Linked DNA regions of Homo sapiens: region 1 is linked to region 2. Evidence: fine-mapped QTL for protein levels in blood plasma. Region 2 holds a variant in brackets. A gene starts in the other region. All regions are shown on their forward strands.

Region 1 (4,216 bases), not on the chromosome of region 2:
GCAGGCGGATCACTTGAGCTCAGGAGTTCAAGACCAGCCTGGGCAACATGGCAAAACCCCCGCTCCATTAAAAAAAAATAAATAAATAAAATAAAATAAAATAAAATGGTCCAAGCCTGGCCCAGTGGCTTACGCCTGCAATCCCAGCACTTTGGGAGGCCGAGGCTGGCAGATCACCTGAGGTCGGGAGTTCAAGACTAGTCTGCCAACGTGGTGAAACCCCATCTCTACTATAAATACAAAAAAAATTAGCTTGGCGTCGTGGCGCGTGGGAGGCTGAGGCAGGAGAATCGCTTGAACCTGCGAGGCGAAGGCTGTAGTGAGCCGAGATTACGCCACTGCACTCCAGCCTGGGCAACACAGAGAGACTCCGTCTCAAAAAAAAAAAAAAAAAAAAAAAATACCGGTGCGGTGGCTCGTGCCTGTAATCCCAGCTCTTTGGGAGGCCCAGGCAGGCGGATCATCTGAGGTCTAAAGTTCGAGACCAGCCTGACCAACATGGAGAAACCCCATATCTACTAAAAATACAAAATTAGCCGGGCGTGGTGGTGCATGCCTGTAATCCCAGCTACTCGGGAAGCCTGAGGCAGGAGAATCACCTGAATTCTGGAAGGTGGAGGTTGCAGTGAGCCAAGATCGCTCCATTGCACTCCAGCCTGGGCAACAAGAGCGAAACTCCATCTCAAAAATAAATAAATAAATAAATAAATAAATAAATAAATAAATAAATAAATATAAATAATAATGATAATAATAATAATAAACAACAAACTAGAATCCAGAGTCTCTTGGGCATCTCTGGAGTAAGCCACCACCAGGGGGCAGCACAGCCAGGGCAATGGAGCAGAAGTGACTTCCCCACATTGTGTTTTTTTCTTTTTTGTTTTTAGATGGAGTCTCGCTCTGTCGCCCAGGCTGGAGTGCAGTGGCGCGATCTCGGCTCACTGCAAGCTCCGCCTCCCGGGTTCACGCCATTCTCCTGCCTCAGCCTCCCGAGTAGCTGGGACTACAGGCGCCCGCCACCACGCCCGGCTCATTTTTTGTATTTTTAGTAGAGACGGGGTTTCACCGTGTTAGCCAGGATGGTCTCGATCTCCTGAACTCGTGATCCGCCCGCCTTGACCTCCCAAAGTGCTGGGATTACAGGCGTAGCCACCACGCCCAGCCCTGTTGTTATATCATTTTCTATTCTCTGTGCGTATGAAATAATCCACAGGGGGCCAGGCATGGTGGCTCATGCCTGTAATCCCAGCACTTTGGGAGGCCGAGGTGGGCGGATCACCTGAGGTCAGAGGTTCGAGACCAGCCTGGCCAACATGGCAAAACCCTGTCTCTACTAAAAATACAAAAAGTTAGCCCAGTGTGGTTGCTCATGCGTGTAATCCCAGCTACTCGGGAAGCTGAGGCAGTAGAATCGCTTGAACCCGGGAGGTGGAGGTCGCAGTGAGCCGAGATTGTGCCACTGCACTCCAGCCTGGACGACAGAGCAAGACTCTGTCGCAAAAAAAAAAAAAAAGCAAGAAAGAAAGAAAAAAAGAAGGAAAGAGAAAGAAAGAAAGAAAAAGAAAGGGAAAGAAAGAGAAAAACAGAGAAAGGAAGGAAGGAAATGAGGCTAGGCGTGGTGGCTCACACCTGTAATCTCAGCACTTTGGGAGGCCGAGGCAGGCGGATCACGAGGTCGGGAGATCGAGACCATCCTGGCTAACACGGTGAAACCCATCTCTACTAAAAATACAAAAAATTATCCGGGCGTGGTGGCGGACGCCTGTAGTCCCAGCTACTCCGGAGGCTGAGGCAGGAGAATGGTGTGAACCCGGGAGGCGGAGCTTGCAGTGAGCTGAGATCGCGCCACTGCACTCCAGCCTGGGCGACAGAGCGAGACTCCGTCTCAAAAAAAAAAAAAAAAAGGAAAGAAAAGAAAGAAATGATCCATGGTGAAGAGAAAAGCCGGGGGAACCTCGTGTGCTGCTCCCCCTGGGGACAATGTCTGAGGTCCTCCCCACAAGGTATCCCCATCCTTCTGGTCCCCGCACCATGGATTAATGCAACGTGAATCCCGCTGGCCCCTGTGGGGCAGATGTGAAAAATGGAGCTACACCATGAGCAGGCCTGCAGTCCCAGCACTTCTGGAGGCTGAGGTGGGAGGATCACTTGAGCCCCGGAGGTCGAGGAGGCTGCAGTGAGCTATGATTGCACCGCTGCACTCGAGCCTGGATGAAAGAGCAAGACCCTGTCTGTAATAAAACAAAAACAACACACACAAATCCCCACCTCACAAAAGGCCCTATGGCCCAGATTCTGAGAAGTATTTTATTTTAATTTTTTTGTAGAGATGGGGTCTCGCCGTCTTCCCCAAGCTGGCCTTGAATTCCTGGGCTCAAGAGATGCTCCTATCTGGGTCTCTCAATGTGCCGGGATGGTAGGTGGGAGCCACTGTGCCCGGCCAGCCCTGACTCTGTTCATCAGAACCTGCCCTCAGTGAACAGTTTGGGAGGGGGCGTGTGATCCAGGCTCCACCAACCCAAGGCACCCTTGAGACTTGGCTGGAGTGAGGAAGAATTTTAGGAGGGGCCCACTGAGCCACTGGGTTGAGTGTGGGGTCCCTGGAAACACACCAGGGGAGGCTGGTGAGGAAAGAAGCCATCAGAGAAGAAAGGAGAAGCCAGAAGCAGACACTGGACATTGTTCAGGCACCTGGATCAAGCCACACCTGAAGGCGGACATCCCTGAACTTTCCATATAACTTTCATGATTCAGGCTCCACCCAGTTTGTCTGGGTTTTCCTGTCCCTTGTAGCCAGTCTTCCCAGCTGCCTCTGCCTTGGCCTTTCCAACTTTCTATTCGTCAGGGTGTCAAGCCCCAGAGGCCACAGGGACAGAGACAAAGGTGTCAAGTGACCTTCCTACCCCCAACAGACCTTCTCTCTAATATAGAGGAGGAAAAGAAGGGAGGGTAGCAGGACAAGAAAGTGGGTTGTTTACACGCTGTGGCCTCCAGCTAGGATTGTGAAACACCCTGGGGGACTCTGGGTGTGGTGAAGTTGGGGCCGGGGTGGGTGCAGCCCCCCTCTCTGCCTCCTGCCCATCTGAGGGACTGCCCCCCACCAGGGCCAGCAGGCTGTCAGGCTCACAGAGGCCCGAGGGTCTCCCAGCGACTTGTCGACTCTGGTGTGAGTCTGGCAGGAGGTAACCCAGTCCCGGGGAGGGCGGAGGCTGGGCGGGCGAGTTCCCCTTTCCCCAGCTGGGCCGCTGCCCACCCGGGGAGCGGCCCGCCCCCTCCACCCTCATAAAAGCACCCCCAGGGCCCTGCCTGGGTCAGTGTCTCAGCCACAGCGGCTTCACCATGCACAGCTGGGAGCGCCTGGCAGTTCTGGTCCTCCTAGGAGCGGCCGCCTGCGGTGAGGAGGCCTGGGCCTGGGGTGAGGGACAGGGCTGTGTAGGGGCGTGGTGCTCCCTTCCGTCACACGGACGGTCCTCCAGCCCCTCCAGGTGGGCAGGAAGGGGGTGTCTCTCCTCACTAATGGAAGGCTCTGAACGCTGAAAAATTCTAGAAAATTCAGATTGGAAATCGGAACTTTCTGGAGTCAGCTTTTCTTGCAGACAGAGTCTGAACGTCTGCGTGGAAAACTTCATCTGCGTGGCTGACTGGGCTGGCCCAGGCACTGGCTGGGTCAGCCCCATTTCTCTTATGTCCAACTGGAAGGCACTGCGCCCAGGGTAGGGCGCTGGGATCTGCCCCCGGTCCCCAGCCCACTGTGGGTTCTGTACTCTGGGGCATTCCCGCCCGAGGGTATCTGAGTTTGCAACGCTGAGGGGCCCCAAGACGGAAACGGGATTCTTTTTTTTCTTTCTTTTTTTTTTTGATAGGGAGTCTCGCTCTGTCGTCCAGGCTGGAGTGCAGTGGTGCGATCTCGGCTCACTGCAAACTCCGACTCCCGGGTTCAAGCGATTCTCCTGCCTCAGCCTTCCGAATAGCTGAGATTATAGGCCACGCCGACTAAATTTTGTATTTTTTTTTAAAGTAGAGACGGGGTTTCACCATATTGGCCAGGCTGGTCTTGAACTCCTGACCTCATGATCTGCACCCCCCCCTCCCCCCCCGCCCCCGCGCGGCTTCACAAAGTGCTGGGATTACAGGCGTGAGCCACCGCGCCCAGAGATGGGATTCTTGCGGGGAGCGGCCTGGGGGGTGAGAGCTGGGATCCCGTCAGGCAGCC
Region 2 (8,000 bases):
CTTCCAGCAGAGTTTCAAGGATTGTGAGCTGCTGTGTTCCTGTGACACTGCCCAGGACCTTGCCCTGACTCAGGCTAAACTTATATCCTCAAATCTTTGCACAGAAATCCTACAAGAGTGCTGGAATAAGGACCAACTGTCATAGCTCTGCCACTCATACCTCAGGGGTCACTTAAACCTCCCCAGGCGGTAGGTGTGCTGGAGCCGGCAGCTCACACCAGTTTATAAGAGCCAACTGTCAGCTTTTCAGAGATTTTGCTACCCTGTTGTTAAATCCAGCCATCATCAAGTTTCATAAACTTAAAATTAAGTACATTCTATTAGAAACCAGTTCTATGAAAACCAGTTCTGTGAAAACTCATTACTTCCTAATTATGTGATTGTTCTATGCTCTATGCTCTGCGGGCTCTCTGTGTCTGTGCTATCTGAATGTCGAATGATAAGCCACTGCGCATCTCTTTGCCCCCATTCCCTGCCCCCACCCCCCAATCTGGTTGTTAGCACCCATGCCCCTGTCTCCAGGGCACAGTTTTCACAAACGTAAAAAGTGGACATTAATACTCTGAGCATCAGGTCAAATGAGATTCGGGGCATGAAAGCAGCTTGTAAAGCCTGCCATTGGCTGGCAGCATTTAACAGGAACCCTGTTTTCCAGTCTCCCATCCCGCCCCCCATCTGTACCTCTCAGTCTTCATTCATGTTCCTGCCCTCCAGCCACACTGCCATCCTTGCTATTCTTCAAACACACCAGGCACTTTCCACCTGAGGGCACTGAATGTTCCCTCTGGTTAAAGTGCCCCCCAGGGTAGCCCCCCCAACAAGAAAGCCACATGGCTAACCTTACCTGCTTCAAGTGTTTGCTCAAATGTCACTCTCTCAATGAGCACCATATTTAAATCAGAGCCCCCATCTCAACTCATGCAGAGCCCTGCTCTATTTTATTTTTGTCCATAAACTTATTACTTAGTACATAATTTAGTTATGTATTATGTTTAGTGTTTATTGTCTGTTTATCCCAGTGCAATGTAAGCCTCACTTCAGAGATTTCTATCTGTTCTAATTACTGCTGTACCCTAAGCTCTAATAAATTGTAGGCACTGGATGAATATTTGTTGAATAAATGAATACCTCTTCGTCCCTTAACTTTTCCCTTTATAAGCACATCGAAGTAAAGTCAGGCACTGCTCTTCACCAAGGTGTTTTCAACAGCAACCTGTAATATACTCAAGCACAGAGATATGCACCCCATGTGCACCCACACCTGGGACCTTCCCAGCTCACACTCACCCACATGCTCTTCCTCAGCACTGCGAGCTTCCTTTTGTTTTCCATCACCCTGAAGCCTGTGCTGTTTGCACTTTTGGCATAAAATGAGCTTTCATTACACTTTCCTGAAGCAAGCTCATTTTCATTTTCTAATTCTTCTGAATAAGCTAGAATTGGTGTTTGGGTCCTGGTGTCTCTGGAGTGGGAGAATTCCACCGGAGACTACAATTGAAATTCATGAGAAATGTTTACCCATTTCTCATTTCCTTCTGGGGCCAAGGCCTCCTGTCCACTCCCAGAGAATGAGCAGAGTTATGCAGTAGGTGAAATGAGTTCAGCCGGAAGGTCGAGGGCATGTTCTAAGTAAACACAGAGCATTGCACAGAAATTAGGAGCTTAGGGGTCAGAAGAGTCCCACTTGGGAGCGACTTACCTCTCAATTACACAGCAGGATGCAGACTGACCCAATGTGGCCTGAGGGAAGGGGCATTGGACTGGGAGTCACAGACCATCAGAACTGGAAGGGTTTGGAGAGGCCAGCTGGTCCAGTTCCCTCATCAGGCAGATGGGGAAACTGAGGCCTTGAATGAAGACGTGACTTGCCCAAGCTCTCAGCAGGAGTCAGCAGCTGTTTTCTAGGCCAGAGCCCTTTCCACTGCCAGGAGACATGTGCCTTTTCCTGTTCTGCCCAGGACTGTGCTTTCTACTGGAGAAAACACAGACATAGGCCCTGAACTCATGGGGCTGGCAATCTAGTGGGAATGAGCTTGAGCTCATCAGAAAGGATGTACTACAAGCAGATGATACAAGCACTTGCAGATTCACTGTAGTTCAGACTCCATTTTCTATTATTTTTAAAAAACATTTTTTTCTCTCAAAGGATAAAAGAGAACGTTATTTAAAATAATCTAGACAATATAGGGACCCTCAAGGACCTTCTGTTTTACTAAATTTTATGAAATCATCTTGACAAATAGAGTATTGTTTCAGGAATAATGCATGGCCAGGAAACACAACAGGACCCCTTCCACAGTAAAGCCTGTTCTGAGGAAGGCTGCATGGAGACACAGAACCATGACTTGGGGAGTTAGAAGAGCAGGGATTCAAGCCTGGCTTTCCTGCAGAGACTTGAACAAATTCACTTGTACCTGTTTCCTTTTTTGTAAATTAGGTGCAATAATCCGTGCTCTTCCTATTCCATGGGAATCAAATGAGTTAATAGATTAGAAACTGCTGTAAAATGTGTGTTTCTACAAGGTAAATACAAAGGAGAAATAAATAACCTCCTGCTTTCGAATAGTGCTTTGGAAGCACTTTTCCATAAATTGCTAGAAAAAACTCAGTAACATTAGCAAGGTCATACATAGGCAGTCAGTGGTAGGGTCAGAGTTGATAAGAAAACTGACATTCATTGAACATCTGGTGATACCAGGCAGACACTTTATTACTCATACCATTGCCTTCATTACCACTATAATAGTACTTTTGAGCTAATTAGAGATGTGTTGGACATATGACATTAAAGCATTTACTTCATTTGGCATTCACAGTAAGTCTATGAAATAAGCATCATTATTATCTCCATTTTACAGATGGAGAAGAAAATCTTAGCAAGGTTAAGCAACTGCTCCAGTAAGAAGTGGAGGCAAGACTTGACGCTGGGTCTGAATGACTCCAAAGTTTGAGCTCCCAACCACTGAGCACAACTGCGTTTTGCAGTACTGATTCCACTTAGACCCTCATGTCATTCAAATCCTCCCACAACCTGTGAGGAAGACGTTGTATTCATTAGGAACTCTTCCTTTCAACTGATGACAAAACCATTGCTGAGGGAGATCAAGGAGCTTCACCAAGGTTCCTCACTCAGATGGTGGCAGAGACAGAATTTAATCCTCACTGTGTTAATCCTCTCTCCATCACTGTCTCTGTGCTCTTTCTACACCCACTCTTACGACTCTTTAAGCTCTGTCTCAAAATTTAGACCAGCATTTCCAGCTGTATTCAAAACTCAATGCACTTCAGTGCACTCTATATCTTTCTAAATCTACACATCTTCACGTTCCTGATCTCAATTTCTGGGTAAGTAGCCAATAAGTTGTCATAACTGGGGCTTAAAGCCTCTGATTCCTCCTTTTTCCTCTCCCATACGCAGCCAGTTCCTGTGGAGTTTACCTCTGCACATCCTACCTGCTCTTCCATAGCTGTCCAGGAGGCCTGTGGGCTTTCTTGAAGTATACTACGCTCCACATAGTCATATCCAATCTATTTAGCACAGCCACCTAAATGGCCTCATTCAGCAGCTCCAGTTTATTTTGACTTTACTAGTCCTTGACATCCCTCATGTAGCTCCAGATTAACCTTCCTCAAGCATACCCTCGACTGTGTCACATCCCCGAACCCCACTGCCCCACCCCTCCGCCACATCACAGCTTCTAATTGGACGTCCTAGACTAAAATGCTAAAAGATGCCAGGCAGAAAACATAAATGAGTGAAACAAGCTGCTATGAATTCTTTAGACAGAAATATACACTTTGCGTGTTAAATACAGAGGGATATTCTTCACTCTGCAAAGAAATTTTTCCTGAAATACGTGTCTTTCTCAAGAACTTTCAACTTTTCTACTTTTGATAGAGACACTGGGGAAAAATGATTCACTTTCTTTACTGTAAAATCAGCAATGGTGCCATTAAGAGGCCAGAAAGCATTAGCATGGGGGAGCTATAGAGAATGGTGGGGACCCTACCCACAAGGCCACCTCTTCCTGGTGTTGGCTGATTGTTGAAGGCAGGAAGCTGCAAGAGTTGCCAGATTTTCTAATATTCTAAGAGAACTTGGAAATGCAGATTGTTGTGTGAGATCGGAAATTTTATGTTGTCATAATTCTTTCTTTTTTTTACACCCCCAAATCATAGTATAAGTTAATATTAGGCTGGCCAACAAAATCCATCTGTGAAATTAATTCAACCTTTGACCACACGTATGTGATTTGGGGAGCACATGCTTAAACCCAAATTTACCAAACATTTCTCAGTTGACCCTCAGATAACCTTTCTGGGCTTTACGTCTCCCCAAAACATGCCAACTCTGATTATTCTCAGTTTTGCATCATTCCCATCCTCTTCAACCTCCCTGCTTTGATGGTAGCTCTGCTAAGAAATCCTACTTAGAGAACTGCACTGCCAAATTATTATTTACCTCTAAAGACTAATCTCAAACATCAACTATTTCCAAAGCCCTCCCTGGCCATCTAAAAATGACCACTCCCAAACTTATATACTGACTGATAA[C/T]CCTTGTGTTACTTTGTCTGGCTTTATTATGCACTTATTTCATTATATTCTATGGAACCGTGAATTCCTTGAGGACTTTATAGTTCATTTTACTTCGAAGAATTCTTTTTACTGATCTTTGCAGACCCAGTCTTTGGCATAGTGTCCAGCTTATGGTAGATTTTCAATAGGATTACTGTGCTTCATTCCATAGACAATGGGGAGGCATTGAAAGATTTTTAGAGTAGCATAATCAAAGCTATGTTCCAAGAAGATCCTTCTGGATACTCATAGAAGGTAGGCTAGATGGGGAGAGGCTGACATCTGGTAGACATATAGAAGGCTATTACAATAGACTAGTTGAGAGGAATAAGAATTGGAACTAAGGAATTAGCAGTGGAGAGGATGGAAGAAATGTCGAATACATCAAGGATATAGGGTTAAAAGGAGAACAGTGGCATTGCATTACATAAACATGTCACAGATGCTATTAAAATATTACACATGGTGACATAAAGAGAAAGAAAGAAAGAGAGTGCAATCCAAATGCAGATGATTTATGCTTCCTTTTACAGTGAATAGATGCCATGAAATGAACTTGAAATTGGAACGTGTAATCTGCTGTTCTCTTGTTGGTTCTGGTTTCTAACTATCTAGACTCTCTCCATAACTATAGCTTCATAGTTTCTTTGTAAGTATAAATGGACCACTTCATCTGGTGCTCAACCAAAGGAACTTTAATTTCTTGCATTTTTGGAAAAAAATTCTTTTCTGGGCATCTAAAAGATAATGCTTTGCAATATTTAAGGGATTTTTTAATGGTAAGTTTGACTAGAGACAATATTTGTCTTATGTTACAACATAAAAACTAGTCATTCACAAGATGGGACTTTGCTGTTTTTTAATCTGTTAAATAATTCTGTTAAATAAATAGAAGAAAAGACTGAGAATCTTAAGATGTAAATTCTAATACAAGCATGATGTTGGCCAATCAACTGCCCTTCCCTGGACTTTGGACATGTTGATCATGGGGTTGGATCATGATTTCTAAGGTCTTAGATGCACAGAACATCAAGGCAAAGTAGACCTTAGAGACCATCTGGTTTAACCGTTTGTATTTGAAAGAGGAGGAAACAGAGTCCATTTTAGGTGCAGTCATCTGCCCAAGGTTAATGAGTATAGAATGACACCCAGGACCCAGGCTGCCTGACTCCCTGACTAGTATCTGTGCTTTGCCTCTTGCCTGCAGCATTAACCAGCCTTGATTCGTATGCCTCATCCGTACACTACAGGAATCTAAACATTGCAGCCACATGCCAAGGAAGCAGATGCTGCTGTGCAGATGTGCATGAGTCTTGAAGACCAAGAACTGTGGGAAATCAGGCAGGAGAGGAATTTTCATAAATGTGAGCATCCGGACCACAGACTTGGGAGTCCTGCTCTTCTTCAGGCTACTGATGAGCAGTATGAGCAGTTCCATCATCATCGCCCCTATGGGCCTGGGTGGGAAGGGCAGCTTGCGGGGTTGGGCTGGGCTGGAAAATGTTCCTGTGAGTTGGAAGGTTTCTTAAACCTACTCCTATGTAGGCCTGTGAGGAGAATTTAGTCATAGAGGAAAAATGCCTCAAAACAGGGAATTTTATCCTGTCAAAGGCAAGTCAGTGATATTTTAAGTTTCTTGGTAAAGAACAGTGTTGGCATGATATGTTTACAAGTTCTGTGATGACATACCACCAAGGCATCCCCAGCAGGCTGCAGGCTCCTACTGGAGTGCTTGCAGTTATGCAACATTGAGAAGCAGCTGCTGTAAACATACGATTTCTGTTTTCTGGTGTTATCCTGACTATGATAAGGAGTGTTTGGTGGGGTCATCTTGGAAGTTCTGGTGAGGAGGATTGGGATTACAATTCCAGAATTGAAAGGACCATGGGGATCATCTTGTTCCATCCTCTCACTGAACAGAGGAAAAAACAGAATTTTGGAGAGGGATGTGGATTTACCTGGGGGCCACATGGCATATTTGCGCTTTTATTCAGATGGAAAGGGAAAAGCTTCTCTTCCATTTATAGCCAGAAAAAGCATATATGCTAGGGGCTAGCATTGGCCAGGCGATTAGAAAAAGTCAGTGGGTTTCAACTCAGTGTGTAAGACTTCTGGGTTTGGGATTTCAGAGGCAGACTGCTCACCCACTCTCTGAACTCTGACCTCCTCTTCTGTCCAATAGGAATGTGGCCAGAGCAGCAAGATTCAAGCCATAATCCCTCAAGGTGCTTCAGGGTAACCAAGAAGGATGAGCAAGCAAAACCACCTTCAGCTAGAGCAGCTCACTTCTGTCTCTTCTCTACGTTGGGCCTAACTGAAGATTTTCAAGAAGAAAATGTGGGCCGGGTGCAGTGGCTCACGTCTGTAACCCACTTTGGGAGGCCGAGGTGGGAGGATCACGAGGTCAGGAGGTCAAGACCATCCTGGCCAACATGGTGAAACCCCGTCTCTGCTAAAATACAAAAAATTAGTCAGGCATGGTGGCATGTGCCTGTCGTCCCAGCTGCTCAGGAGGCTGAGGCAGGGGAATCACTTGAACCCGGGAGGTGGAGTTTGCACTGAGCCGAGATCCCGCCACTGCACTCCAGCCTGGCAACAGAGCAAGATTCCGTTTCAAAAAAAAAAAAAAAAAGAAGAAGAAGAAAACGTGTACTGGGGAGAATATATTTGAAAACCACAACTTAAGATGAGATGCGTCCCCAGAGGGCCCCTGCAGCCTGACATTCTGTGAGTTCTCAGCTCTAGGAGGGCAACTCACTGGGTGTGTGTAGGCAGGGGCACAGGGTGGTTTCCACATGAGCACCAGTAGTCAGCCAACTAGCATGCAGCATCCTGCAGAGGGGAGGCCTGCTGGTGCCCCACGGCTGTTGGAACCTCTGCAGAAGGCTAATGCTGACATTAGGGTGGCCTTCTGGAAGAGAGTCAGCTGTGCAAGCACAAGTGGAGAAGTCTATCTCACCTCCCGCCGCCACCATGTTAATCTCTTCTTTGAAAGGAACTGGAAAATTGTCCCAACTCACAGATGCAAGGACTGTAGGGCACTTCAGGTAGGCAGCTCAGTCCCTAAGTTGCCTCAAGTAGACTACTTCTCTGTTATGCCCAGAGGTCATCTGTCTAATTTTGGAGCAGAGAGGGTGCTGTAAAATAATATTCTTCTCCACTCCATGTCATTTGGGGAGTTAGTGACAGATCTGAGACCAGAAAAGGCATTTCCTGAATTCCATGTAAGGGCCCAGGACCATGCTGCCCCTTCCAGAGGGCCCATGTCCATCTACTTGTGGTTTCAGGAAGGAGTCTCACCACTCTAGATAGAAACCATCAACCAATTTCCAAAATATTCTCTAGCCAAGAAAGTCAAGCTTTGGATAGAAATCTATTCCAGTGTCTTTAATTCAGTGTTAGAAGAGGTCTTCAGATTATATTAT

Which allele goes with the higher level. Positions count from the first base shown, and alleles are read on the strand shown. Strength reflects both the effect of a copy and how common the allele is.
For the plasma level of the protein whose gene starts at base 3,317 in region 1, allele C in region 2 goes with a lower level than allele T (weak association).

The links. A credible set is the group of variants that fine-mapping cannot tell apart. PIP is the chance, under the fine-mapping model, that this variant and not a neighbour inherited with it causes the effect. The UK Biobank Pharma Proteomics Project read protein levels with antibody pairs (Olink). The fine-mapping took linkage between variants from a reference panel, not from the people measured, so its PIPs are less certain.
Region 1: CFD starts here. The variant in region 2 is the best candidate, but not a certain one, in a credible set for the plasma level of the CFD protein (UK Biobank, PIP 0.53).

What each region holds. Positions count from the first base shown.
Region 1 is chr19:856,348-860,563 of GRCh38, forward strand. It overlaps CFD (complement factor D), which reads left to right and starts at 3,317. Exons shown (of 5, transcript NM_001928.4): 1 at 3,317-3,397. The coding sequence starts at 3,343.
Region 2 is chr3:187,275,306-187,283,305 of GRCh38, forward strand. The region is part of intron 2 of MASP1 (MBL associated serine protease 1); the gene reads right to left. Among named protein-coding and RNA genes, the nearest start is that of MASP1, 12 kb to the right of the region's middle. The variant C/T (reference allele first, on the strand shown) is at 4,555.